Regions from separate parts of the Homo sapiens genome. Here regions 2, 3 and 4 are each reported to be linked to region 1. The links are microRNA targets in miRTarBase. Many come from high-throughput screens and were not tested one by one. Region 1 holds a microRNA gene; each other region holds the end of a gene's coding sequence.

Region 1 (5,665 bases):
GAACAGGCTACAGCACTTAAAGGTGAAAAGCATCCAGACTTCTTCATGCAGGAGATGGAGTAGAAGGATGTCTTGTCTATGGAGTAGAAGGATGAAGCCTTGGATGCAATTCATGATCAAGCCAAGAGGAGGAGGAGGAGAGCAGAGGACTCCACCAAGCAGAGCTCAAAGCCTTTGATCATTGCACACCCACTTGGACATTCTATGGGGCCCAAAGGTAACCTTGAGGCCCTGAAGCACCACCAAAGGTGGTGTGCCCTCAAAGCAGAGGAACACTGTCTAGCCCCTAGTTATACAACATTAATAACAAATAACCATAATAACACTTATGTGTCAGATACTCCACTAAGCGCTTTATATGGATTATCTTATTTCATGCTGACATGATCCCTTTAATGTAAGTCACATTAATTTTTTAAGGTAAGTCATTATCATCCCTATTTTAAAGATAAACAAACTGAAGCTTGAAGATATTGTTTAACTTGCTCAAGACCACATAGTAAGTGGCAGAACAAGAATTTGAATTCAGGCAATTTTATTTCCAGGGCCTACCCTAGTTCTTCCCCTTTTCTTTAGGAATCACAAACTGGAGGCCCAACGTAGATGCCACTGCCATGTTCTGCACAACCATTTAGTTTGGTCCCCTGCTCTGAGTATTAAAAAGTTGTGTATTCCATAATGGCTGTACCAGTTACCAAATAAGAGCATACAAGGGTTCCTTTTTCTCCGCATCCTTATCAACACATTATCTTTTGTCTTTTTGATAACAGCCATCCTAACAAGTATGAGATGATATCTCATTTCTCAATGATTAGTGAAGTTGAACATTTTTTCTTATACCTATTGGCCATTTGTATATCTATTCTGAGAAATGTCTTTTCAGGTCCTTTGCCCCTTTTTTCACCCAGTTATTTGTTTTCTTGCCATTGAGTTCTTTGAGTTCCTTATATAGTTTGGATGGTAACTCCTTATCAGATATATGGTTCACAAATATTTTCTCCTGTTCCATAAACTGTCTCTCTACTCTGTTGATCGTTTCCTTTACTGTGCAAAAGGTTTTTAGTTCCTCCAGCTTTGTTCTGTTTGCTCCAAATTGCTTTGACTATTTGAGATCTTTTGTGGTTTACATGAAATGTATGGTTTTTTTTTCTATTTCTGTAAAAATGTCATTGGAATTTTGGGGGGCATTTTATTAAATCTATAGATTGTTTTAGGTAGTATGGACATTTAAACAATATCAATTTTTCAATCCACGAACATGGGATGTTTTTCCATTCGTCTGTGTCTTCTTTAATTTTTTCATCAATGTATTATAGTTTTCAGATCTTTCACCTTTTTGGTTAGATTCATTCCTAAGTATTTTTAAATACTATTTTAAATGGGATTGCCTAATGCTGGGAGCAGTGGCTTATGCCTGTAATCCCAGCACTTTGGGAGGCTGAGGCCGGTGGATCATGAGGTCAGAAGTTCAAGACCAGCCTGGCCAACATGGTGAAACCCCGTCTCTACTAAAAACACAAAAATTAGCCGGGCGTGGTGGCGCATGTCTGTAATCCCAGCTACTTGGGAGGCAAAGGCAGGAGAATTGCTTGAACCTGGGAGGCAGAGGCTGCAGTGAGCCGAGATCATACCACTGCACTCCACTCCAGTCTGGGCAACAGAACAAGACTCTATCTCGAGAAATAAATAAATAAATAATGGGATTGCCTGATATCTTTTGCAGATTGTTAACATACAGAAATGCTATGGGCTTTTATATATCAATTTTGTATTCTGCAACGTTACCCAATTTATTAGTTTAACAGTTTTTTGGTGGAATATTTAGGGTTTTCTATGTATAAAACCATGTTGTCTGCAAACAAAAACAATTTAACTTCTTTCATTCTGATTTAGGTGACTTTTGTTTCTTTTTCTTGCTTCATTGCTCTGGCTAGAACTTCCTTTATGATGTTGAGAAGTGGCAAAATGAGCCCCCTTGTCATGTTCCTGATCTTAGAGAAAAAGTTTTCAACTTTTCATCATTTTCACCATCAAGTATGATGTTAGCTGTGGGATTGCCATACATAGACTTTATTGTGTTGATCAACAATAAAGTTCATGTATGGCAATCCCACAGCTTTATTCCTTCTATACCTAATTTATTGAGGTTTTTTAAAGTCATAAAAGGATGTAGAAATTTGTCTGTATCTATTGATATGATCATATGTTTTCCTGAGAAAAAGTAAAAATAGAACTACTATATGATCCAGCAATTCTACTTCTGGCTATATATGCAGAGGAAATGAAACCAGTATGTTGAAGAAATATCTGCATTCCCATGTTCAATGTAGCATCATTCAAAATAGCCAAGATATGGAATCAATCTAAGTGTCCATCAGTGGATGAATGGATAAAGAAAATGTGGCATATATACATAATGGAATACTATTCAGCCTTTATAAAAAGGAAATTCTATCATTTACAACAACATGAATAACACTGAAGGATATTATGTTAAGTGAAATAAGCCAGACATAAAAAGACAAATACTGTACTTATATGTAGAATCTAAAAAAGTCTAACTCACAGAAGCATCAAGAAAAATGGTGGTTACCACAGGCTGAAGGGGTGGGGAGAGATTGAGAAGGTCAGAGGATATGAAATTTCAGTTAGACAGGAGGAATAAGTTCATATCTATTGCACAATATGGTGACTATAGTTAATAAAAATGTATTGTATACTTGAAAATTGCTAAAAGAATAGATTTTAAGTGTCATCACCTCAAAAAAAATAAGTATGTGAAGTAATGGACATTTTAATTAGCTTGATTTAGCCATTCCACAATGCACACATATATCAAAAGATAATGTTGTACAGCATAAATATATGCAATTTTTATTTGTCATTTAAAATGTATAAAAATTATTGCTGTGTACCCAGGCAAGCATGATGCCTGGTGGAAGAAGTAGCTCAGTACCAAATTTTGTGCTTGCTACCAGACTGACTTCTTTGCCCACCTCCTCCCACAGGTATTGACACTAGTGGGCCCTGCTCTGTTTGACAAATCATACACTGCCATTATCCATATATTGCTTCTCCATAAAATGAGAGGGTTGGACTAGGTGGTCTATCTCAAAGGTTCTTTTCAATTCTAAATGTTATAGAACTACCATTTTCCAGACGCTGGGCCATCCTCTTGTATCTAGTAGCCAGGGGTTCAGATCAGCAAGGTGATCAGCCATTCTCAGTCAGGCAGCCCAGAGAAACATAACCTCAACCTTGCTATCTCTGTGTCCAGCCATTGACGCCCACAGAGCACACCCCTTCAACTCTAGGCCAAAGAAAAGCATGAGGAAAGAAAGCTGATTTTTGTTAAATTACTGATTTCTACTTCCACAAGGATTAAGTAAAAATCTTTTCAAATATTAGGGAAGAAATACGTTCTAAAGCACATGAGGAAAGATTAGTCCAAGTGGTCTTAGGTTGCATTTTAGTAATGTGGGTTTTCTGCCCCAGGGAGAAGCAAAGTTGTTGAAAGATGGGAAAGTCTTCAGAGTGGTGCGAGAGAATTGCTGGGATCCAGAAGTTCGTATTAGAGAAATGGACCAAAAAGGTACGATGAGAAGTGCTACCAATGTTAGCATCTGATGTAAAAGCAATGTCTGCCCTTAAAGTTTGCTGACAACTTTATGTGATGGTAACTTCTGACCCCCTTTTCTCTGCCAGGACAGGCTGTTCCAGCTTCACTGTGGGAGGGACAGGGCCTTCCACTACAATGCTTTTAGAGTGTGGATTCAAAATGTTTCATATGAGTTATACCCTGTTTTAAAATAGAATGCTATATCATGAAAAAGATAAAAATGGCATTTTATTATTTTTAAAAATTAGTTCAAATGTATAGTATTTACTTATTATAAAATCAATTAAAATAGTAAAAACTGGAAATCACAAAACTAAGAATGACAATTGCCTGCTTAATAACACTTAAGATCCAATTTCTTTCTGTAGTTTGTCTCGGTGCATCATACACAGAACATTCCCACTGACACATCAGGGTTGGAAATGGAAGCAGTTAAAAATAGTTAATTGTGTAATCTCAGAATACACTACAATAAAATCAATCCAGAAATTTGAAAGAAGAGAATTAGGAAGTGTTCGTTTCAAAGCTGAATTGCTAAAAAGCTATAAGAACATCTTGCACTTTTTACCTTATATCTAAAAATCAAACAAGTCCTCACAATTTAAAAGAATTTCAGAAAAGGCACAGTAACAGTTTGGGAGGCCAAGGCAGGTGGATCACCTGAGGTCAGGAGTTTGAGACCAGCCTGGCCAACATGGCAAAACCCTATTTCTACTAAACATACAAAAATTAGCCAGGCATGCTGGCGCGTGCCTGTAATCCCAGATGCTCAGGAGACAAAGGCACAAGAATCGCTTGAACCCAGGAGGCGGAGTTTGCAGTGAGCCGACATTGCACCACCGCACTCCAGCCTGGGCAACAAAGTGAGACTCTGTCTCAAAACAAAACAAAATGAAATTTCCAAGTCTATCTAAAGTATGACATGATGGCCACATTATGCTTCACCTGTGACTGCCTGGTTGACTGTGCCACCTGAGGAGAACATGCTCCAAGAAAATGCCTGAGCCTTCCAGACACATGTGGGCTGTGTCCATGGGCTGTGATGGGGAACTGACCACCACTGACATTGTCAGAACTAAGTGTTTACATTGGTGGAAGATTTCAACCAGAAAAGAAACAATTCAAACACACAAATAAAAGAGCAGTTTAGCACTACCACCTTCCTAATCAAAGACAAATTGTAAGAAGTTCAAATATACAAAGAGATGGCAGGAGACATTTTATTCCAAGGTCTGCAAAAAAGGAATCAAACGGTCAGCCTAAAGTGAGTAGGTGGTCTCCAGCATGTTGGAATTTGTTGTAGATACCTTTGTCCAGGTTTTGCTTTATATATTTTTTAACAATTAAAAATAGAGCCAGGTGTGGTAGTTCATGCCTATAATCCCAGCATGTTAGGAGGCCACGTCAGGAGGATCCCTTGAGCCCAGGAGTTCAGGATCAGTCTGGGAAACACAGTGAGACCCTGTCTCCACAAAAAAAAAAAAAAAAAAAAAAAATTATCTAGGTGTGGTGGCATGCACCTGTGATCCCAGCTACTCAGGAGGCTGAGGTGGGAGGATCACCTGAGCCCAGGAGTTTGAGGCTGCAGTGAGCTGTGATTGCACCACTACACTCCAGCCTAGTGGTGGAGCAAGACCCTGTCTCTAAAAAAATTTTTTAATTAAAAATATATTTAAGTGGCATTTAAATTGAACTTTGCAGAAAACCTGCAGCACCTCTGTAGAGTACTCCACAGAATATAGCATATATCCCTCTGTTCTAAAAGTATATTGGAGTGGGAGGAGAGCTGGAGAAAGAACATGCTTCCCTGACCTACAGCAAAGAGCAAGGTTTTGTAGTAAATGTGAAGCTGCAGCAAGGACCTGCCTTTTCAAGGAGAAAACTAGTGAGCATGAGACTTGAATGACTGGTGTCAGAAACCACTACTTACGGCTGCACGGTAAACGAAGTGTGTGTGTCAACTTTGGTTTTTGTTGTGTGTTGCATTCCTTGGCTGTCCCTGAGAGAACAGTCATGACCAACCCTCATTGAGTATTTACTTTGTGC
Region 2 (5,665 bases), not on the chromosome of region 1:
TCACTCTTGTTTCCTACAGGATGTTCATGTATCGGAGACAAATGTGACCAGTCATGTTCACTCTGATAGGCTAAAGCAGAAAGGTATACTCATAAATAATTATCAACATGGGTTAATCCCAACTACAAAACCTTCTGTAACATCACACTCAGTGATAATTGTGTTTCCTAAGTACCTCTGTTCATTGGAGTTTCTATATTAGGTACATCTGAAAATAATACTGGAAAGGGTTAGAGAAACAGATAACGTCGATGGCGTGCTTACGCTTGCCACATGATGGAACACTAGGCTTTCACAAATGAAGAAATAAGCTCACTCCAGTGGCAGGGTGGGGTCTGAATCGAGACCTGTCTGATCTATACCCAAAGGAGTATTCCACCTTCAGTAGGGTAGAAAAGCTTCCTGTAGCCTCTTTCATCCATTTCTCACTGTGGTGAGAAATGTCTAGCTAGTTTGGGAAAGGGCCCTATGTCTGAGATTGTAGGTGCTATCTTTAGAAAAGGTCTCGGTGGCTCACAGCTGTAATCCCAGCACTTTGGGAGATCGAGGTGGGTGGATCATCTGAGGTCAGGAGTTTGAGATCAGCCTGGCCAACATGGTGAAACCCCGTCTCTACTAAAAATACAAAAATCAGCCGGGCGTGGTGGTGGGCGCCTATAATCCCAGCTACTCGGGAGGCTGAGGCAGGAGAATCGCTTGAACCCGGGAGGCGGAGACTGCAGTGAGCCAAGATGGCACCACTGCACTCCAGCCTGAGCAACAGAATGAGACTCGGTCTCAAAAAAAAGTCCCACTGCGCAAGTTTGTCAAGGATGTGTCCCAGGGCAGTTACCCGGAAGCAGGGATGTGGGTCCCTGCTCCTAACAAACACCTGCTATGGACAGAGTTGTCCTACTCCTCCTAGTACCTGCCTGAGGAGGCAGTAAGGAAGGCAGGGGGACTAGGAAGGCTGAGGCAGGAGAATCGCTTGAACCCAGGAGGCGGAGGCTGCAGTGAGGAAACAGACCTGAGGAAACTGGACTTTTGTACTTTGTTCTTATATGACAATCAGGCCAAGTTTAGTCATTTACATACATTAACTCTTAATCCCAAAAAAGATGATTTTGTCCTCCAACAACGCTGTGAGGTAAATAAGGCAGGCTGACAACCCCCTGCAACCCTGATGTTTTTTCAAATGAGGAAGCTGGAATTTGTGACCCAGTGGGCCCGGTGGTTATCAGCTGGACCTTGAGGCCAGAGTTGAGTTCAGAATGGGGGTCACCCCCTTCCTAGCCGCCCTTGGGGAAGTTCACATCACATACCAGTTGAAGGCATCACCCTTCTTTCTTAGATGACTACTGCCTTCTCATATATATGTATTTTTTTTTCTCTTTAGTTCCGTGTTAGTATTAATATGTTTTTCTTTTTCTATTTTTTTTTTAGATGGAGTGTCGCTCTGTCACCCAGGTTGGAGTGCAGTGGCGTGATGTTGGCTCACTGCATCCTCCACCTCCCAGGTTTAAGCAGTTCTTCTGCCTCCACCTCCCAAGTAGCTGGAATTACTGCAGCCTTGACCTCCTGACCTCAAGTGATCCTCCCACCTCAGCCTCCCTAGTAGCTGGGACTACAGGAACGAGTCCACACATCGGGCTAATTTTTGCATTTTTTTAGAGAGAGAGGGGTTTTGCCATGTTGCCCAGGCTGGTGATCTGCCCCACCTTGGCCTCACAAAGTGCTGGGATTACAGGTGTGAGTCTCCATGCCCAGACTTTACATTTATTTCCAAGGTCAACAGGACAGTTTTTTTTTTTTTCGAGACAGAGTTTCGCTCTTGTCACCCAGGCTTAAGTGCAATGGCGCGATCACAGCTCACTGCAACCTCGCCTCCCAGGCTCAAGCGATTCTCCTGCCTTAGCCTCCCTAGTAGCTGGGATTACAAGCGCCCGCCACCATGTCCAGCTAATTTTTGTATTTTTAGTAGGGATGGTGTTTTACCATGTTGGCCAGGCTGGTCTTGAACTCCTGACCTCAGTTCATCCACCCACCTCGGCCTCTCAAAGTGCTGGGATTACAGGCGTGAGCCACGGCGCCCAGCTGACAGTTGTTTTCTTTGTAACTTGTGTTCAACAAAATCTTATTACGTAAAAAAACGAATTTTAGAACTCTAAAGTAAAAAAAAAAAAAAAAAAAAAAAAACTTCCAGGCTTGGCATGGTGGCTCATGCCTGTAATCCCAGCACTTTGGGAGGCCAAAGTGGTCAGGAGGTCAGGAGTTTGAGAGCCGCCTGGCCAACATGGCAAAACCCCTTTTCTACTAAAAATACAAAATTAGCTGGGCATAGTGGTGCATGCCTGTAATCCCAGCTACTCAGGAGGCTGAGGCAAGAGAATCACTTGAACCCACCCAGGAGGTGGAGGTTGCGGTGAGCCGAGATTATTCCACTGCGTTCCAGCCTGGGTGACAGGGTGAGACTCCATCTCAAAAAAATTAAAAAAAGAAAAAAAGAAAACTTACATCTACCTTATGTGCTTCCAGCAAGGCAACATTTCCAAGTTTTTTCAGAGAAAAAAGTACTGCAGTGAAAGATGGGGAAGGGCTAGTCATTAGCACCTGTCAGGCCTGATTCAGGACCCCCCCCTTTGCATCGCAGAGACCAAATCACAGTGATTTGCACCTTCAAACACCTCCTTTCCTTTCTTTCGGTACATCAGATGGCATGAGACCGTGACCTTCTCACCCTCCTACCCTGCGCACCTCTTTGGTACTGAGCCTCTGTGGATAACACATCAGAACGGGAAGTGCAGGCTACTTCTTAGGCATTGTTACGGTGTCCGCGCCAGACTTCACCAAGGGGGAAGGTTTTCAGCCATCTTCTTTAGAACATCCTTCTTGGGTCAAAAGGACCACTTGAAGCAAAGGTGCTTTTTGGGCAATAAGACTCGGCCTCACATTTTATGATTTTTTTTTTAGAAACCTCAAATCTGAACTGTTTGCTCCTGCTGTGGGTTAATGGCACATGTAGAGGCACAGACCCTCCATATGGCCCCTAGAACAAGTCCCAGCTGTTACTTGCTGGTCACGGAGACGACTCACCCTGAGACTTGACTTCTCACACTTATGAAACCTATACCCAATAGAACAAAACATCCGGGGACTCAGTTCCTTCATTCAGGTTTCTATTTTTATTCAACTACAAGCAAACAGCACAATTAATGCAACATTCAGCAACTCCAGACCAGCTTTTCTTACCCCCATGAAGAACGATCAATTTAAAAAACACAGATCTCAGGTTTCCTCCCAAGCTGTCAGCGAGCGCTGCTACCGGTCTAGATTGCCATGTCCCAACAACAGCAAAGCCACCCTCCCTCCTGCTTCTTCCAGGATTGCTCTTTAAAGGGACCAGAGTGACATACTGATGCCTACTGAGGCATCTGAGATGCACTGTGTTGGAGGTTAGCCTCAATGCCAGCCTCTGGTTGTCTAGGTGAGTGACATCACCATAAAATCACATTGTGTACCATTCTGGACTCAGGATCACAAAGGCAGAGGCAACCAATCTTTTTTTTTTTTTTTTTTTTTAAACCTCCCTTAAAGATTCTTTGATGCTTTGCTCTATCACTGTAGACCTGGTCTTTTTCCCCCCAGTTTTTTCTTTTTTACATTCTGGGTTGCTATTTTCAGATTAATAATTTGATGACCCCATCACAGTACCAAAATACCCCCCAAAATGAAGTTCAAATTTGATCAAAACATAAATCAGAGTGAGTGAGTAAAATTATAAAGGCCAGGCAGCAGGAAAAGTCACCCTCAACTACCATCTGACTGGTCAGGTCTCACCCATGCCAAGGGGGGCAGGAAGAGGAGAAATCTATTATACATGCAACACTGAACTGGGGAACATGGCTTGGGGCCTCCAGGACAGTTCAGGTCCCCAAGCTAACCCCCTACTTCCCAGACAGCTGCTCGTACAGTTTGGGCACATAGTCATCCCACTCGGCCTGGTAACACGTGCCAGCCACCGGGGCCCTGAGCTCATACTTTTTACGGAAGGACGCCACCTTGAATTTGCCACGGTGGTCTCCAGATCGGTTGCTGAGGATGGGCTCGTCACACTTTAGCGGCCTGTCCTGCTCGTAAACCAGCCAGACATAGCGGTGGAGGCCTGTGGGGAGAGGCAGAGGGAAGATGTACACACAGCCCAGCACTTGAGATGGGGACATCATCCATTTTTATCGAATGTTTCAACATGGAGGCACCCAGACCACACCATTTACAAGGAGGACACCGAGGGTCCAGACAGGTATTTGGTGCAAATTAACATTTAATGGCAATTAACACATTAATGGCAAAAACCGCAATTACTTTTGCATCAACCTAATAGAATGTGTTAGGCCCCTGCTGTAACTGGTGTCAAGCCCAAGCCCTTAGTTCCAGCCTCTCCTGGCCTGTGGGATCTGGCCTCTGCACCCCCTTATCCTCGCCTCCCAACGAGCCTCTGTGCTCTTCATTCATCCCACTTCAGGCTCCCGGACCTTCTCAAGTCACCACCCACCACCCCCCATCAGAACACCCATTTCACTTCTGTCAGGTAGGAGCAACCAATTAAGGACAAAGCAAATCAATGACCCGGGCCCACCATACCACAGTCGAGCCTCTAGGATAAAGGAGAACATTTTCTTTCTACCTCCAAAATTTACTTGCTTAGAAAACTGGAGGACTACTTCGAAGTGACCCAACCTCACTTTAACTAAGCAGCTTTCTACAAGCTTCAATGATGTACTGGATGCAAATAGGTACCATGAGCTCTTATTTTTTTAAAAAGTGGGTTTTTTTTTTTTTTTTGAGACGGAGTCTCACTCTGTTGCCTAGGCGTGGAGTGCAGTGGCATGATCTCGGCTCACTACAACCTCAGCCTCCTGGGTTCAAGCAATTCTCCTGCCTCAGCCTCCTGAGTAGCTAGGATTACAGGTACGTGCCACCACGCCCAGTTATGTTTTGTTTTGTTTTGTTTTTGTATTTTTAGTAGAGACCAGGTTTCACCATGTTGGCAAAACTCCTGACCTCAAGTGATCCACCCATCTCGCCCTCCCAAAGTGCTGGGATTACAGCTGTGAGCCACTGCACCCGGCCAGAAACAAAGTTATTTTTTAAAAAGTTGTTTAAATATTTGCACACCCATGTTCAATGCAGCAGTATTCACAATAGCCAAGAAGCAGAAGCAACCCGACTGTCCACTGATGGATGAAAAGATGATCAGAATGTGGTTTATACACACAACAGAATATTATCCAGCCTTTTATTTTTTCTTTACTCCCCTGTGTTACTCTAGGACTATTCAGCCTTAAAAAGAAATTCAGACACATGCTACACCAGAGAACCTTGAGAACATTACATTAGTGAAATTAGCCAGTCGCAAGACAAATACTGTACAATTCCACGAGGTATCTAAAGTAGACAAACACTGCAACAGAAAGTGGAATGGTGGCTGCCAGGGCTAGGGGAAGGGAAATGGGGAGCTGTTGGTCAATGGGGACAGGGTTTCTGTTGGGGAAGATGAAAAATCTAGAGATCTGTTTCACAACAATGTGAATGTAGTGGTCGGGCATGGTAGCTCACATTTATAATCCCAGGACTTTGGGAGGCCAAGGTGGGAGGGTCACCTGAGCCCAGGAGGAATTTGAGACCA
Region 3 (5,554 bases), not on the chromosome of region 1:
CCTGGGTTCATGCCGTTCTCCTGCCTCAGCCTCCCGAGTAGCTGGGACTACAGGCGCCCGCCACCGCACCCAGCTAATTTTTTGTATTTTTAGTAGAGACGGGGTTTCACTGTTTTAGCCAGGATGGTCTTGATCTCCTGACCTCACGATCCGCCCGCCTCAGCCTCCCAAAGTGCTGGGATTACAGGCGTGAGCCACCGTGCCCGGCAGGGATTTGAAATTCTTATAAGGAAGTCTTGCTAAATCAAGGTGGAAATCAGGTGTTACCAAAATTAGGCTAGCTTTGTAGTAAATATCTGTTTTCTTAGCAGGAAATGAATCATATGTCTTTCAGAAGTCAGATTGCTTCCATTGTGTCTATCATTGGGGATATTACCATAAAGCACAGAAAATTGAGGTGCTTTGTAATTACAGTGGGCTTCAGGGTATACATTTCATTGCATTTTAGCCTTTATAAGTATTGTTTTTGAAGGTTTTACATGTTATCTTAAGCACATGTACGTGCCTTTAATGGCACATAGTAAACCAGTTTTAATAAAAGTTGACCACGTCCTAATAGTAAAGTTACAATAGCATTTTAAATCTTACTAGTGATTTAATAGTTCACCATTTAACATTTGTAGGGCCAGGAAAAGCTGCTTATAAGACTCACGGGCACAGAGTAAGTATATTCACTTTGAGACTGTGTGATATATGTATGCATAGGGAGGCAAAGGACCCAAATGCTGACCTTTTAAAAATGACTTTCTTTCTTTTTTTGAGATGGAGTCTCACTCTGTCACTCAGGCTGGAGTGCAATGGTGTGATATTGGCTCACAGCAGCCTCCACCCCCCAGATTCAAGTGATTCTCTTGTTTCAGCCTCCCAAGTAGCTGGGATTACAGGCTTGCATCACCACACCTGGCTAATTTTTGTATTTTTAGTAGAGATGGGGTTTCACCATGTTGGCCAGGCTGGTCTTGAACTCTATTAAGGTGATCCACCTGCCTCAGCCTCCCAAAGTGTTGGGATTACAAGAGCGAGCCACAGCGCCTGGCCTAAAAATAATTTTCTTTATATTAACTTTTTTCTATTAGTTTCTTATTGTGGCCTCTTAAAATTCTACTTTAAAAAAATTTTATGTGTGTGTGTGTGTGTGTGTGTAATAAATATGTGTGTTTCCTCAAGTGATTTTAGGCAGAATGTGTCACTGCCCTTCCTGTGTAAAATAACTCTTAAAAATCATACAGCTCTTCATGTTACGTGTTGACATAGTTTACAGCAATCCTACTTGATTAGCTTTTTTATATGGAAAACATAATCATACTGTGTGTAGCCAATTTTAAGATTGTGTTATTCAAGAGTCTTATATTGCCATGTAAATACCATCTCAAAATGTGCCCTGTTGTGAGATAAAGAAAAACTTAAGAGATTTATTCTATTAAGCTATAGCTTTTTATCTAGAAAAATGGCAAATGAGTAGAATTTCCATATGCAAATTTCTATTAAATAAAGATTTAAAGCATGTTTCCTGGAACATTTTACTTATAGACAGGAAATGTCTTGTGAAGGTATTGTGAGCACACTGCTTTCTGATCAGTAAAATTTGGGAATTAAAATATTTTCCTTTTAAGATTATGGTGAGAATTAAAATATATATTTGCAAAAGAATTGGCAAATGCAGATATTCAATAAATGTTAGCTCCCCTCCCAGACAAGCTTATATAAATGTGTGTGCTCCGTAAATGAAATTCAAAGTTTAAAGTGTATTTTTAGAAAACAGTCTACTTAGTGAGCCATCTGGGGCTTATATGGCATCTTTCTAGTAACAGTTGGCTCTCCTTTCCACCACTATCAGTCAGTGGGGTCACAGAATAATAAACTTGTCTGTCAGCCATGAAACACAAGCTCTCATTCAGCCATAAACAAATTAGCGTGGCAAATTGAATTGCTAAGTAACTTTTCCAGTTTTGTTAATAACATACTCTGTTATTTAATACATCCCCACTTTTTTCTGTTTCAGAGTGGAAGCTCAAAATGAAATGGGGCAGCATATTCATTGTTATGTTGCAGCTCTTGCTGCTCATACAACTTTTCTGGAACAACCCAAGAGCTTTCGCCCTTCCCAGTGGATAAAAGAACACAGTGAAAGACAGCCTCTTAACAGAAATAGCCTTCGTCGCCAAAATCTTACCAGGGATTGCCACCCTCGGCAAGTCAAGCACAATGGCTGGGTTGTTCATCAGCCCTGCCCGCGTCAGTACAATTACTAATAGTTTCAAGTTTTGTTGGTTGGTTTCTCTTGGTTTGTGCTTACATGTATGGATGTGTGTATATGTACAGTGAAAATGTTGTCTCTTTACAACCAATTGATAACCAATCACATAGTTTTATCAGTGTATTTAGACACTATCTTGAAAATCAGATTTATATGCTGTGTATCACATAATGCCTTGCCTTTAACATTTACTTTTTTTGTACACTTTTTCAGATTATTTCTGGAAACATATCAATATAATTACAGTGTTTGGGGGTGTCTTTAAATATATTAGGTTATACATTAGTCAGCATTTTAAAGACATTTCTTCCCAAGTACGAGAATAGGCATCTTTCATTTTCATTTTATTTTGTATTACTTAATCTTTTAAGCAAGCAAAAATTTATTCTCAGGGTCAGCTGTACACTTTATTGACCAGTACTTGATAATCTCTCTGTATATGATGAATACATTTTTACACACTAACATTAGCATTAACAGGTGATAGTTGCCATGGATATAATGGAATTATGGCTGGACTTTCTTTTGAAAGAAAACTTGATGTATTCTGTGTGTATGGTTTTTCCCCAGATTAGTCATACAGTTCATTTGGAATTCAGGTACATTAAGCTTTAGTGAAGAGTGCATGCAGTAATTCCAATGTGACTGCATGACGTGGTACAGACATTACAGGTGTTGTAGACAGAGGCACTTGTCTCGTGCAGAGGGATTAAATTAGACCTGTGAGATTATATTTGGAAAAATTCATGTCTGTAACTAACCCATTAGTGCAGTATTTAATTTGTTACTATTCCTTCCCGCCAATTCTGTCCACTCCTCACCTCGCATCAGCTATAAATTTGGAAGTACTTGTCCAGGCACTCAAGTGACTTCATATTTCTCTCTGCCCATGGGAAAAGAGATAGGCTTTATATTTCCACAGAGTGAAAAATCCTCTGTCATGGAGCCTGTCCTGCCAAGTGGCAAGAGTGTGGGGACTGTCTGGTGATGATGTCTTTCATGGCATCTGAGTGAAGAGTGACAGGTTGGCTCAACTTTTTTCTTTTTTTTTTTTTAATTGCCTTGTATTGTAAGTATTCTTCCCTGCAGTCCAAGTGACTTTTCATTTTTTGTTTTAACTTCAGGCAAAATCTTTAACCACTCTGGCCTCTGTTTCCCCCACCAACGGGGAGCAGTGACATTTACCTCCCTCACAGAGTCACTGTGAGGATTCTATACTGATTTGAAGTGGAGCTGTTCAGAACTGAACCTTGTAGGAAATTCCAAGGGCCTTTCTACTGAATCTGGTGATGGGGTGGGGCCGTGGCACTTTCTCTGCCACAGCTGTTCTTCACAGTGTTGGTGCTAATGAGGCCAGGGTGCAGGGTTCGATTCACACGTAGGCCAGTTAACTTAGAGAAAATCTATTTCCTTACCTCTAGCCAGTCACTTCCTTTTTCCGCAGTTGTGATGGGTTTTGCTGAGCCATCCACTCTGACTGATTTCCTCTGAAGTAAACATATTTACAATCCAAAGCAATTCTACTGACAGAAGTGTTGCCTTCATAATCAAACAGCTTGTTTTTCCATCTCCTCTGCAACCCTAATTAAATGAGTACAGGTCTACAAAATGTTTTCAAGGAGAAAAGCAGCATATCCTTAAGTGAAGTATTATATTTTTCAATAACCCTGTAGTGGCTTGATGCAGGGAACCCTGGGGGACTTTCAGCGAAGAGCTGTGCTCTTTTCTGACTAGATTAGAGCGTTTGGAGTGGAAGACGTCAAATGTGTAGTGAGATGGAGGTTTTACATTGTTCTTCTACTGGCTGTGATGAAGTGCCAGAATGTCTCTTTAGAACAAGAGTTAGATTCCCCCTTTCTCCTTATTGCCCCTTCCGTTTTGACTTCCCCTTTATTTATTTGTTGTCTAATTAGGGGCCAAGTCTGTAAAGTTTTGTCAAAGTGAGTTAGAAGTTGTTTTCTCTTACTATTTGTGTTTACCAGAGTTGGGAGATAAGATAGTTTCCATGAAGGTGTGTATGTTTTATACGATGTTTGTTATAGGGCCATGCATTGGTAACTTGAAAATAGACCAGCTTAATGTCTTCAGGATGTAAAACTCTGAATACACGGCGTCTCTTTTTCATACATTGCATGTAAGTTGTTAGTACCTCACAAGCTACAGAAGTTCAGCCATGAGATTTTGTTTGGCAACATGAACAGATTTGTGTATAACTGCAATGGCCTTTTTTTCCAGATTTCCTTATTGACTTTTTGTTTGCCTTACCTGGGGCTAGTTTTTTATGCTTTGTACCTAGAAAACAAAAAATTACATTCGTTGGGCTTTTTTTCAAGGTTGGGATTACCACACCACCTGGAATATCATACTGTGGTTTCTGCCTAAAATTGGCACATGTAAGTATTGAAGAAAATGGTTATATAATTCAGTTGAAACTCTTGGTTATTAGATGTTAGGCATCTCCTGTATGTAAGACACAAGGCCAACCACAACACAGAACGATGTTGACCTGTTAAGTATTCTCTGAAACATGGCCAAAATGCATTTTATGAGCTTTTTTTTTTGCTATTGTAAATATTAGTGGTTTACAATGCGCTTTAGACATATTTCTTTAAAATGCAAGCAGTGAGAAATAAGACCTCTCTGAATTAGTAGCTCTAAACTGTTAACATAGAATGTTACTTGGAAAAAGTCTGGAATATGTGGTGTACACAAGCAGTGCTTCGTGAATGAGTTTCTTAGCTTTTATAGTGCGCCATGTTTCTCAAAGTTTGTTTTTGTTGACAAAACATTTTATAATATATATCTTATGTTTATTTTTTTTCTCAACTAATTGTGTACTGCACTGTAAGGTGAAAATTAGCCATCCATTATTTATCTTCTGTGGCAATGCATTTATATGGTTGATTGGGTGGGGAATTTTTTGCAGAAAGATGCAAAGTGATTGGGTTTTCGACTTCCTATCGCAGGGAGCTTTTAAGAAATATTAATTTCCTATACATTTTTCCAATCCCCATGCAAACTGTTCCTGTTTACATACCTTCTCTGTTGTATCAGTACTTTGAGTGAGAAGACAGTTTATTTAAAACTTGAGCAGGCTGTTCAGCATTGTTTCTGCTTCTGAAATCTGTATAGTACACTGGTTTGTAATCATTATGTCTTCATTGAAATCCTTGCTACTTCTCTTCCTCCTCAATGAAATACATTATATATTATCTTTATGTACTCTTAAGAAAAACGAGCAAGGAAGAGTATCTTCATTATTCTCATTTTCTCTGAGTTGGAAACAAAAACATGAAG
Region 4 (5,665 bases), not on the chromosome of region 1:
TTTCTTGCCAGATGTCCATTTGGCCTTCCCTTTCTCATTTTATGGGAGGTTGGGAAATTAGCTAGTGGCATTTCAAGATTTATTTTTAACCTTTTCCCAGTTCTTCCTATCAAGTCCCCTCCTAGAGCAAAACAGTGTGTAACTATTAAGAATTAGTGGCACAAGAATTTGTCAGGTTTTATCAAGTCCAGTGAAAAGATTTAATTAATCACTTAGCATTAAGGCATTTGTTGGATTATTACTTCAAGAGGAGACACGGTGGTGCTCGTACTACATCTGGGCCATGTAGTTGTGCACACCGATAATATTCAAGAAGTCATCAAATACAGACCTCTGACGTTTTCGGATTTTCCTGTTGCTGTCTTGATTCTTTGCTGGCCACTCCAGAAGCCCCTGGCAGGTTGTGATTTTCTAAGGAATGACTTTGAATCACATACCAGCTATTCCTTGCTAAAGCAAATGAGAGACAAATCTACTGGCCAAAATAAAGTCTTCCTCTTGCTGCAGCTGTGTTGTCTGCATGCTACCATTACAAAGGGACTCCTGATGGGGTCAAAACAAAGCAAAAAACGTCTTTATGAAAAATGGTCATTGGCCGGGCATGGTGGCTCACGCCTGTAATCCCAGCACTTTTGGAGGTTGAGACGGGTGGGTCACTTGAGGTCAGGAGTTCGAGACCAGTCTGGCCAACATGGTGAAACCCCATCTCTACTAAAAATACAAAAATTAGCCGGGCATGGTGGCGTGCGCCTGTAATCTCAGCTACTTGGGAGGCTGAGGCAGGAGAATGCTTGAACCTGGGAGATAAGGTTGCAGTGAGCCAGGATTGCACCACTGCACTCCAGCCTGGGCGACAAGAGTGAAACTCTCAGAAAAGAAGAATGGTCATTAAATGAAAGAATCAATAAAATCTGGTTAGTTTGTGTGAAGATACACTTAGGAAGCACATGGCTTTCAACAAAAATGTGATTTAGCGGAGAGCCTGGAGTCTGCTGGTATTTTGTCTTATCCTCCCACACCAAGGTGCGACTGTGTTCATTTATTAAATTTGATGCTCCCTGTTGATGATGTGTTCTTGGTAAATGGAATCCATGAACTTTTAATCTGTAGTTCACAACTATCCCTCCACGTGTGTTTCTTTTCCCAGGTACTGGTCTTCTTGGACATTAATCTTTGAATACTTGCTGACTGCTAAGAAATGACCAGAGGGGAAGAGGAGTTTGACATGTTAGGGCATTAAAGCAAAGGTGGATTTAAGAATTAAACCATTACATGCCCCTTCCAAAAGGCAGAAATCCATTCAAACGTGACTGTCCCAAATGCCTTATGTCAAATAAAGCAGATTGCACTGATGGACATCAGACTTGAAGGAAATGTTTCCAATTTTATATTTAAGGGGGGTGGTGGGTGGGAGGGGGCAAGTAAAGACGGAACAAGTTTAGTAGCAGTAATAGTAAATCATGTTTACATATGAGATTTATAGTCGTGGGAGGGGAATAAAGTTCTGTTATATTTCCTTGCTCGAGTTTCATACCAGATGCGTTGGTCCATAAAGGATTGTATCAAGTAGATGGGACAACATTCTGCTCTGAACGAAAAGTAATTTTAGAGACATAACCTGCTTACCAATGCCTGTCTTTGATTCATATTCTACTTTCAATAAAGCATGAAAGTGAAGAACTTGTCCTAAGTGTGGAAAAGTGTCTTCAGATTTAGACTCTTCTCCATGTCAGCTGCAGCGCCACCCGCCTTACACCTGCCCGGCCGTCTGTCTCTTGGTATTGGGTAAAGGAGGGGGCACCTGCATGTCTCCTGCAATGAGCAAGGAATTATGTCTCATGTTTTGACTTCAGAGGCTTTTTGCTTTGGTGCATTTCAGAAAGGATGGAGAACATTTATTATGTGTGAAAGCATCCTCTTCCGGTTTTGCTGTTATTCAAAAGTGGGAAATGTACCTGGCACGTTTGAAAATAAAAAATCTGACTACCTATCAGAAGAGTAAATCAGACTGAAGTACATTTGGATAACACAAGGTTTCTATAAAATTTGTTCTTCCTGTCCTCCATGTCACTGTTTCTTGGACCTCAGTTCTCTTTTTGAAAGCATTATTCCAAAATGCCCTGAGAGGGTCTCTTAGATCATTGTTTAAAAAAGGAAAAAAGTATATGGATGTGCTGTCCATCCAACTCAGGATTATCATTCTTAGCAACACGTAACCGAAGCAATATTCTTAAGAATATTGAAGGGGTTTTTTTAATTGAACTTAAGACTGGAGTTTTTCCTTTGAAAAAAAAAAAAAAGTTTTCTCTGTTGAGTCCGTCTGTGTAAGTTTGTGGCTGAGATGCTAGCTTAGGCATCTCTCTTGTTAACACTTTTCTTGGCCTTGGGTTTGTGCAAGGCTTTTTCCCCCTTTCATGAAAATGTGAACTCAGATCATGGATGGGGAAGGCAGATTTTGATTTGAGACCCGATAACCTTGGCAGCATCCCTTTTGAATAGCTCCTTTTGTCAGAGTAATTACGGCCATTTGGTAAAATTCTAACTTCGTGTTTGTGTTTCCCCTCTGTGTTTCTAATGTCTTCAGTCTGTGTCCCCTGAGGAGGCAGGGGGTCTCTAATGAGCCTATCTATGGGGGAAGGTGAGAGCTGCACACAGCCCCCTGAGAAACCATCCTAGGAGTGGAACCAAGGGACCAACTGTTCTGGCCTTGAGGTTGGCACAGGGGAAGGACTTGAAGTTGAGCTGATGGATCCTGATTTTTAGATCTCATTGTTTTATTAGCTCCAAAGAAATGAATGCAGGAGCCTAAAACTAATAACACAAACTTCTTCTTTCCCAAGGTAAAGACTTTTATAAAAGTTCGCACAATGCTTGATTGAAGCCACTTCCTTTTCCTTACAAAGAAGCTTGTTGGCCAGAGAAGGTTCTTTTTGGGGATTGACATAAACATGTTAGCAGCCCCCAGAAATCTGATATATTTTCCCCAATTTGCTGTTGATAACAGTTTTGAAATTTGTTACTTGGGTATTTTTTCCTCCTGCAATGCTACGAAATAACAGCCTTTTGTAAATCTTTCAGGCTGGTGGTACCTGCTCTGAGTACTGGCTTCTTTATTATCTCTGTCCAGGGGTGGGGTGGGCACCGAGTGAGCAGGTGATGCTGCAAGAGTCTGCCCTTGGCTCAGGGTCATCTTCCTCCTGCTCTGACAACTTGCCTTGTTCTGCCAGCACTGCTGAAAGTAACTGCAGCCCAGCGGCTCCAGTGACACTGTGAAGCTTTATTACCAAGGCAGGAGCTCAGGCCCTAGACCCGCTGAATCGGAATCTGCATCCACAGGCCACTCCTGTACTCTTTGAAACCCTGGGCTTGGGGCCTCTCCCACCCATAGTAGGCAGAGTTGCAAAGAAACGTATGCTTGTATTGAATGGTTTTGCATTGCCACCCTTCTCACTTGGTACAGGGAAAAACAGGTAAAGGGTATGACCTAAAGCCCGATTCTCGTTTCGTCTGTAATTATGAATAGATGGAGTCCATTTGCCTTCTGGACTGTGAAAAGTTCAGAGACTCTTTGTGTTGGGGTTCTAATGCCATGCATGTGTACTTTTTTATATTAGATCAGTCTCCGGTATAAGGTATTATGAAGCTTGGGTCTTTTCCCCTTGATATTTCTGACCATTCTTTAATCTGAAACGAATGTGTTCAGCATACTACACTGGTACAGATTGTCACCACGAACTGAAATATAGGCTGCATTTGGGTGTCTTCATTTCCTGGGGAGTAAGTATCTTTCTGTGTATTTATGAACTCTATTGTTTAGAATTACTGTTACCTTCCTGCCAAATTTAAAAGATATGAGTGTCCCTTTATTTCTGTGGGAGCATAATCCATAGTGAATTTTTTGGTTATTTTAAATGTGCTTTTGGTTGGTCTATGTGGTCATAGATCTGTTCATCAGACTCTGGTTAATATTGGAATCTAATGCTCAGGTTGAATAACCTGTTTTAAAAACCCAAGGGATGATTTATCTCTGTCTAAACAAACCGCTGAAGCGAAATGAGCAAGAAAGCCTGTCTTTCCTGTTACCGAATCATGGGGCAGAATCATATCCTTTCTCTTGGGTACTTTAGTCCTCAGCTCATTCAGTGTTAATAGGGGACTGCGAACAGAGTGCATGCAGATTAAAAGCCAGCGTTTTCATTTTAAGAAGATTTTCCCAGCCTGAGAAACATAGTGAGACTTCATCTCTATAAAAAAGCAAAAATTAGCCAGGTATGCCGGTGGTCCCAGCTACTCTGGAGGCTGAGGCAGGATAATTGCTTGACCCCAGGAGGTCGAGGCTGCGGTGAGCTGTGATCACACCACTGCACTCAGCTTGGGCGACAGAGTGAGACCTTGTCACAAAAAAAAAATGTGCATGTCTGTGATAACGCCCCATACTCCCACCCCCACCCCAGAGTACAGGGTTTTGTCAACAACATTTCTACTTCTGAAAGCTGGCATCACCACCCCCACCCAAAACACACACACACGCGCGCGCGCACACACACACACACACACACACACCCATCTCCTAGACATTCTGTAGGCAGAAATACTGGCTGGGGATTTATCAACATTATTCGAACCCTCTATTTTTCATTAAAGTACAAATTATAAACATTTGTAAAATGGTAGGTAGCACTTTGTTGATTTCCCTGAGCAACATTTCTGTGTCAGGTAGTGTGTGCCAGGTAGACAGTCTCATTGGCAGACAAAACCACTTCTCCATCCCATATATCTCAAACCTTGGATTTTTTTTTTTTTTTTTTTTCCATTCTGGCTGTTAATTGGGCTAAGGAGTCTGCTAGCTATCCAGATAGCACATAAACATACAGGCAAGTGTTGAAAGTGTGGAGTTGTAGAAGTTGGGCCACCTGTGTTACAGATAATTTCACCATTTACCTTGTAACCAAGAAAAGTGACTTAATCTTGCTTTACCTTAATTTCTTCATCTCTCAAAATAGCAGTATTTGCTATTTTTGTTTACTACACTCAGAGGATTAAACAGTAATAAATATTGTTGAGGTAAAAGGCTTTGTATTTTTCTTTGCATTTAGAAGAACTGTTGCCTTTCTGAGGAAATGCTGTTGGAATCTCTTTTGCAAGTCTTCAAAAAGAGGCCTTGTAACCACCTAGCAAAGCTACCTGGAGCATCTTCTCTGAGAACTTTAGAAACTACCTTTTACTTCAAGCCCTTCCAACTAAAATGATAACTAGACAGGTGTTCGACCATCCTGTCACATAAATCTTTTCTCCTGGCCCATAAGAATAATGAAGCCAATGGCCAAACTGCAAGCCTTCTCAATTCGGTGTTTTTTTTGCAGGGTCATGTCGAAAGGTATTTGAAACACGCTTAGAATGCATGTTGAAGATTTATGTCTCCGTGATGGGCAGTTTCTGCCCCAAAGGGGCAGCTTCAGTTGTTTTGATTGTCATTGCTAAGAACATCAGGAACAGATGTCTCGAGCTGCCGAGGCATGGCTCTGCGGGCACTGGGAAGCAAAGCCATGCGGAGGCCTGTGGCTGGTGCTCAGAGGTCACTTCCTGGTCTGAGAATTGCGTTTTTCATTATTTACCTGGTGATACTTAGTGAATAATATCGTTCAAGGGTAGAGTACACGAAACA

The links. Region 1 holds the annotated microRNA hsa-miR-5590-3p (AAUAAAGUUCAUGUAUGGCAA, at 2,088-2,108, shown strand). A microRNA usually pairs through its seed, bases 2 to 8, with sites in the 3' UTR of a target mRNA and lowers its output. Matches are read on the target gene's strand: a 7mer-m8 pairs with bases 2 to 8, a 7mer-A1 pairs with bases 2 to 7 and ends in A, and an 8mer does both.
Region 2: miRTarBase lists PEBP1 as a target of hsa-miR-5590-3p. Seed matches in the 3' UTR shown: 7mer-A1 at 3,756-3,762.
Region 3: miRTarBase lists TP53INP1 as a target of hsa-miR-5590-3p. Seed matches in the 3' UTR shown: 7mer-m8 at 2,662-2,668 and 7mer-A1 at 3,164-3,170.
Region 4: miRTarBase lists USP48 as a target of hsa-miR-5590-3p. The part of its 3' UTR that is shown has no 7-base or 8-base seed match.

The regions. Positions count from the first base shown.
Region 1 is chr2:134,855,766-134,861,430 of GRCh38, forward strand. It overlaps MIR5590 (microRNA 5590), which reads left to right and starts at 2,055; the gene lies at 2,055-2,108. It overlaps ACMSD (aminocarboxymuconate semialdehyde decarboxylase), which reads left to right. Exons shown (of 10, transcript NM_138326.3): 3 at 3,496-3,592. RefSeq lists a silencer at 3,160-3,360.
Region 2 is chr12:118,143,062-118,148,726 of GRCh38, reverse strand. It overlaps PEBP1 (phosphatidylethanolamine binding protein 1), which reads right to left. Exons shown (of 4, transcript NM_002567.4): 4 at 3,143-4,141. The coding sequence ends at 3,924. Among named protein-coding and RNA genes, the nearest start is that of PEBP1, 9.8 kb to the right of the region's middle.
Region 3 is chr8:94,927,177-94,932,730 of GRCh38, reverse strand. It overlaps TP53INP1 (tumor protein p53 inducible nuclear protein 1), which reads left to right. Exons shown (of 4, transcript NM_033285.4): 4 at 2,003-5,554. The coding sequence ends at 2,252. It also overlaps a transcript of NDUFAF6 not described here. Among named protein-coding and RNA genes, the nearest start is that of TP53INP1, 19 kb to the left of the region's middle.
Region 4 is chr1:21,674,922-21,680,586 of GRCh38, reverse strand. It overlaps USP48 (ubiquitin specific peptidase 48), which reads left to right. Exons shown (of 27, transcript NM_032236.8): 27 at 1,148-2,289. The coding sequence ends at 1,170. Among named protein-coding and RNA genes, the nearest start is that of RAP1GAP, 8.4 kb to the right of the region's middle.